Linked DNA regions of Homo sapiens. The protein of the gene in region 1 interacts with the protein of each later gene in a pairwise test. Each region holds a gene or a part of one and is shown on either strand. Other genes may lie near its edges.

Region 1 (3,500 bases):
TATGTGTACAAAATTTGATATGTAGATTAAAATTTGATGTGTAAGTTTAAATGTTATTTTATAGTGTGCTTTGTAATAATTCCTTTAAATAAACATTTCATGTGCCACTAACATTTGATTTTGACTAATAAACACTAGGATGTATAACTTCTTGTTACTGATATTTTAAGGATTCAGTTATTCTAAATCCTTTATTAATTTTAAGCAAAATTGCTTATAAATGTTTTAGGAACAACTGGAAACCTCCAGGAGGGAAATGATTGGGCTTCAGGAAAGAGACAGACAGTTACAATGTAAGAACAGGAATTTGCATCAGCTACTAAAGAATGAGAAAGATGAGGTGAGTTGTCAGTTATTGCAGATGAAGTTTAAGTGAATTTTTGTTTTCTTTGTAATATGAGATGACCATAAGAGCCACTTTACTTGAAAAAAGAAAGAACCATTTATTCATCTTTCCCCAAATTGATATGGTGGACCTTTGTGTAATAGTATTTAACTGGAAGCTCAGGAACCCTCTCCACTACAGACCCCGCCCCCAGTGGATCCATTTGGCTTAGATATTAGTTCATAGCTGGTAACAGCCAGTGTCCTGGACTGCCCTTCCTGGACTCATGTTCACTGTCACTTTTTCTTAGGCACAAGAGTGCTTTAAATGCAGATCTTTTATTCTCTGCTGTACCTGTACGTGATAGCTGAGGTGCCCCTTCTTGCATGCACTGTCTTAAATATTGACATTGTTCGTCTAGTCAACCAGTTTCTTCATTAAATGGGCACAGAAGCAGTTCACATTAAAAATCTAATTTCTGACACAAAAGATACAATTCTGATTTCTGCTTTAGTGGTTACTTAGCAGAATTCTAATTTCTACTTTAGTGGTTACTTGGACCTATAGCACTAATGCATTTCAAAATATATTTTTTAATTTGTGTAGAAAGAAACTATTATGTTTTTATTGCTCTAAAGTATGACCCCTGACCATGTAATAACTATAAAAATATAATACTTAGTTTCAGTGTTTTATATGTTGTTTTAACTACAATTAAAGACTTCTGAGGAGTGTATTTCTTTAAAGCGCCCTGGAGTGGTTTAGATAGATTTGTTTTACCATATTTGTTTATTTAGTAGTATATTTAGTAAGTAGTAGGTAATTAGTATTTAAACTGTAAGGTTGCTTGTACGTGTTTCCTTGAGTTCACAGACAATTTTGACTAGATCTGTTGATTATATTTAAACGGTTTGAATACAGCTCATCTTCGGTAGGGATTAAGTTAATCATGTTGATCCCTAGCAGGGACTGGGAATGGCTTTATAAAAGAATAGGACATACTCTGTCAGGAGTTGCCTGAGAAACTATAATAGATCTAAATTTTGAACAGCAGTGTCTGGCACCTAGTAGATACTCAGCAAATATTTGGACTGGATTATTCTGCTGTTTGGACTTACTCTTACTCGAGAATTGTTTTTAATTAGAAAAACGAGCCTGCTTACCTGCTGCCATGTGTCACAGGCTTAATTCACTTTGTCACAGATTAATAAAAAGTATAAGTGATTGTAAGTCAGTAATACAAGGAGTTCACTAAAAATGATCAGATGAATTCTGTTTATCTCAGATGAAGTTTTAATCGTTTTAATACTTCCATAAGAATATCTGGTTTTTAAATGATCAGAGTCTATATGTAAGGTAAAAGGTATAGGAGATAATTTAGAAAATTAGCGCTTCTGGAAATTTCAGAATTAAAAAAACTTTATGTGATTCATATAATATTTAAAAAAGTGGTTTCTACTGGTTACAAATAAGGAAGAATCATCCTAGGATTTTAAAACCTATATGGGGAGATGAATTTTAGGATTTTTCTCTTTCAAATTTGTGAATCGTTACTGGGCTTATAATAGCAAATGCCTTTTTCAGGTGCAAAAATTACAAAATATCATTGCAAGTCGAGCTACTCAGTATAATCATGATATGAAGAGAAAAGAGCGTGAATATAATAAACTGAAGGAACGTCTACATCAACTTGTTATGAACAAGAAAGATAAGAAAATAGGTAAACAGCTGGCAAAGATCAGCTAAGAGAATAAATAAGCTAATACTATGCTTAGAAATAATTGTAAAAGGATTGAACACAGTAACTCACGAAATGTTATTTTCATGCTTTATACAATTGATTTTCAGTGGTGTTTGTTTATATAAAAAATGTAGACAACTGGTTAGTGGAAAGTAAGTCATTCTGCCTTGCTTTATTTAATTGCATGTATTTTTTAACATGACCAGTGTAGAATTAATCCATAGAGGAAAACTAAGCCAGAGGACATTCTAATTTTCCATAGCAAAGAACTGATAATATTAAAAATCAGTGTCAGTTTCTGAGTATCAAAAGAAGTATTTTAGAGTAAACCTCATAAAATTTTTCATCAGACCAAATCGTTCATGTCAGTTTGAGTTCCTTTAAATAAGTTTAGCTGTACATTTTTGGAGCAGCTAGTCAAAAGGATGGACTATAAAAGTTAGGCGTGTGTGTGTCTAAGGTATACTTTTTTCCTAATAGTAGTCTTTTTCAAAACTTTAAGCCATTTCATCCAAATATGTGGATAATTTCAAGTAGATAGTGTAAATTAAAAAGCAAAGAAACACGAAAGTAGAGCTTTACAATACAGTTTTGCTGGCCTGGTATAAATACGAGGCACAAGAAGTGTGTGTATTTATTTATTGAAGAGTGGTTTCCTAGTGACTATAGGTAGTCCTCTAACATACATTATACCGTGACACCCCTAAACTGTCTTACCTTAGATTTGAAAAACAGGCGATGAGCGTACGTTTCAGGCTGTCATGTGGTAGACTCTGCCTGCTGTCAGCAAGCAGTTTAGTGTTGACTACATCACTGTCATTCTGCAGCAGAGCTGTTGGAGGTATCTGAATACTTTATTTTTTAAATTGTTGAAAAATAGAAATGAAGATTCAGTAATGCGCCGTTAAGATTGGAAATCTTTAGGTATCCTGAGTTAATCTTACTCATTTGGAGAATCATTGGTTTTTAAGTTTAGTTAGCCTCATATTCATTCATGAAGGAAAAAAATTAAAAAGCAGGATGAAATGCTGAAAGTATAAAGTGTAACACAGAGAAGTTTATTAAGGATTTAGTTCTGGAAACAGAGCTCTTCCATTATAGCGGTCTGGCTGTTTCCTGGTCCAATCGGAAGTGACAGTTTCATAATGATTTTATTAACTCTAAGATTATAATAATTTACTCTTTTTCCTTTTTACGCCAAATGTTTCCATGTCCACCTGCAGCAGAAGATATTACTACTATCAGGGGCTTTGACTCCTTTGATGAAAATGATGATGTTAATGTTAACAGGACATGGCAAACTTTTTCTGTATAGATCCATATAGTAAACATTTTCAGCTTTATGGGATCTACAACTTATTTGTTGCACCTACTTATCTCTGCCATTGTAACAAGAAAAGTAGCCATAGGCAGTATATAAACAAGTAGATGTGG
Region 2 (2,257 bases), on another chromosome or scaffold:
TGTTCCAGAGAATCCAGGAGTCCTGCCAAAGTGGCACCAAGTGGCTGGTGGAGACCCAGGTGAAGGCCAGGAGGCGGAAGAGAGGAGCACAGAAGGGCAGTGGATCCCCAACTCACAGCCTGAGCCAGAAGAGCACCCGGCTGTCTGGAGCCGCCCCTGCCCACTCAGCCGCAGACCCCTGGGAGAAGGAGCATCACCGCCTCTCTGTCCGGATGGGCTCACATGCCCACCCATTACGGCGATCAAGGCGGGAGGCTGCCTTCCGGAGCCCCTACTCCTCAACAGAGCCCCTCTGCTCTCCCAGGCAAGTGGGATAGTGCTTCACCCCGGGGCTGGTGGCCTTTTAACCTGGGCACAATCCCTGCTGTCTGACCTCCCAGACACCAACTGGGCCCTAGGGGTTTCTTGGCACCCCCTGTGGCTACCTGGAGCCAGGGGCACCCTGAGCAGCGTCATATTGTATTATTATTATTCTTACTGTTAAATGTGTGTCCTGCTTTAGCAGATATCCAGTGCATGTATTTGCTCATCAGAAAATGAGAAAACAGGCTGGGCGCAGTGGCTCACACCTGTAATCCCAGCACTTTGGGAGGCCGAGGCGGGTGGATCACCTGAGGTCAGGAGTTGGAGACCAGTCTGGCCAACATGGTGAAACCTCATCTCTACTAAAAATACAAAATTGGCTGGGCGTGGTGGTGCACGCCTGTAATCCCAGCTCCTTGGGAGGTTGAGGCAGGAGAATCGCTTGAACTCGGGAGGTGGAAGTTGCATTGAGCTGAGATCGCGCCACTGCACTCCAGCCAGGGCCACAGAGCCAGACCCTGTCTCAAAAAAAAAAAAAAAAAAAAGAGAGAGAGAAAGAAAACAAAACAACAACTAGATTCCTAAGGATTGTATTTCAACTTTCCGGCTGAGTTCTAGGGGGAAATGGAGTGTGTTAGTTAAGGCTGCATAGTAGCTTAGGGCTGTTGAATTTTTCCCCAGATTTCTTTGAGGGCTAGCATCTTTCTTTAGCCTAATAGGAACTTTGAGCTGTAATTAAGGCAGGCTCTGTTTGTCCCATTTGACAGGTAAGGAAACGGAGGTCCGGAGGGGTTTGGTGATTAGCCTGAGGGTCATCCTGTAAGAAATAGAGGAGTAAAGGCTGGGGTCCAGATCATCTGGATGTTCTGCCCCACCGATCAAGCTGGCCTGCCTTGCAGAATCTTCTAGTTCTCAGACAGGCCCAGAAAGTGGCCTGGCTCAGGGCAGGGGGTGAAGCTCATCCCAATCGGCAGTCCCTGGCAGTTTCCTGGTCCCATCTCGGAGCTCTCAGGGAAGGCTGCCTAGCCGCTGCACCTGTGTTGTGGCAGGTAGTCACCAGGATGCATGTAAGTGACCAGGTGGCTCTTTGCAAACCTGTAAGCTAAAATAAGGCTTGTGTACACTTCAAAAATACTCTCCACATCTGTATTCTGACCCGGTTCCGCGTCCAGAGCCAGCAGGGGACCTGAGAAAATCCTTTAGGACCTTAGTTTCTCTGTCCGTAAAGGAAGAGCTGAGTTTAGTTCTGACACAATCACACTCACCCAAGCCTCCTAGTGAGCCCAGAAGCAAGTTTTGAAGCCACCTGGAGAGCTGAGGCTCAGTTTCCAAGTGGGGAAGCTGCAAAATCACTTGCCCGTGACCTTGGCCTCGTGGATCTTGATCTTCTCTCTGTTTGTCGCTCTGAGGTCACCTCCTGGAGTGAGGGTCTGGAGTGAAGCCCAGCCCGCCAGGGTCATCTGGGCCCACAGACCACACCCCGGTACCGGGTTGCAAGGGTCTCCTGCCGGGAGTTTCCAACTAGTCACTGGTGTGGCTTTTTCTTTCATGCAGCGAGTCTGACAGTGACCTAGAGCCTGTGGGGGCGGGAATTCAGCATCTCCAGAAGCTGTCCCAAGAGCTAGATGAAGCCATTATGGCGGAAGAGAGGTGAGTTGGCATCCCATGCTTCAAAGTGAAGGGGCCGGGAGGGCCCCTCCAGCCATCTTTGTAGGCAGGCGTTGGTTCTGCTCTGACCTGCTGTGTGACCCTGGCCAGTCTCTGCCCCTCTCTGGGCCTCAGTCTCCCTCATCTCAAACATGAGAAAGGACAAAATCCTGGACTGGGGTGATGGTAAAGGATGTAGCCTGAATGTGTGTGGTCTTCTGGGCCTTGGGACCCCATGTTTGTCCATCACTTGGAACCTCACGTGTGGCTGGTTCCTGAAAAACCTGCCCTTCCTCCAGAACTCTCC

What was found. The genes of interacting proteins can lie anywhere in the genome.
Region 2: the proteins of SSX2IP (region 1) and PIMREG interact in binary tests that used the Homo sapiens proteins (3 or more experiments, as listed by UniProt).

Annotation. Positions count from the first base shown.
Region 1 is NC_000001.11:84,662,962-84,666,461, reverse strand, and holds part of SSX2IP (afadin- and alpha-actinin-binding protein), read left to right. Parts: intron 1-229; coding exon 230-340; intron 341-1,909; coding exon 1,910-2,045; intron 2,046-3,500. UniProt on the Homo sapiens protein: Belongs to an adhesion system, which plays a role in the organization of homotypic, interneuronal and heterotypic cell-cell adherens junctions (AJs).
Region 2 is NC_000017.11:6,447,455-6,449,711, forward strand, and holds part of PIMREG (protein PIMREG), read left to right. Parts: intron 1-8; coding exon 9-304; intron 305-1,568; exon of another isoform or gene 1,569-1,857; coding exon 1,858-1,953; intron 1,954-2,249; coding exon of another isoform or gene 2,250-2,257. UniProt on the Homo sapiens protein: During mitosis, may play a role in the control of metaphase-to-anaphase transition.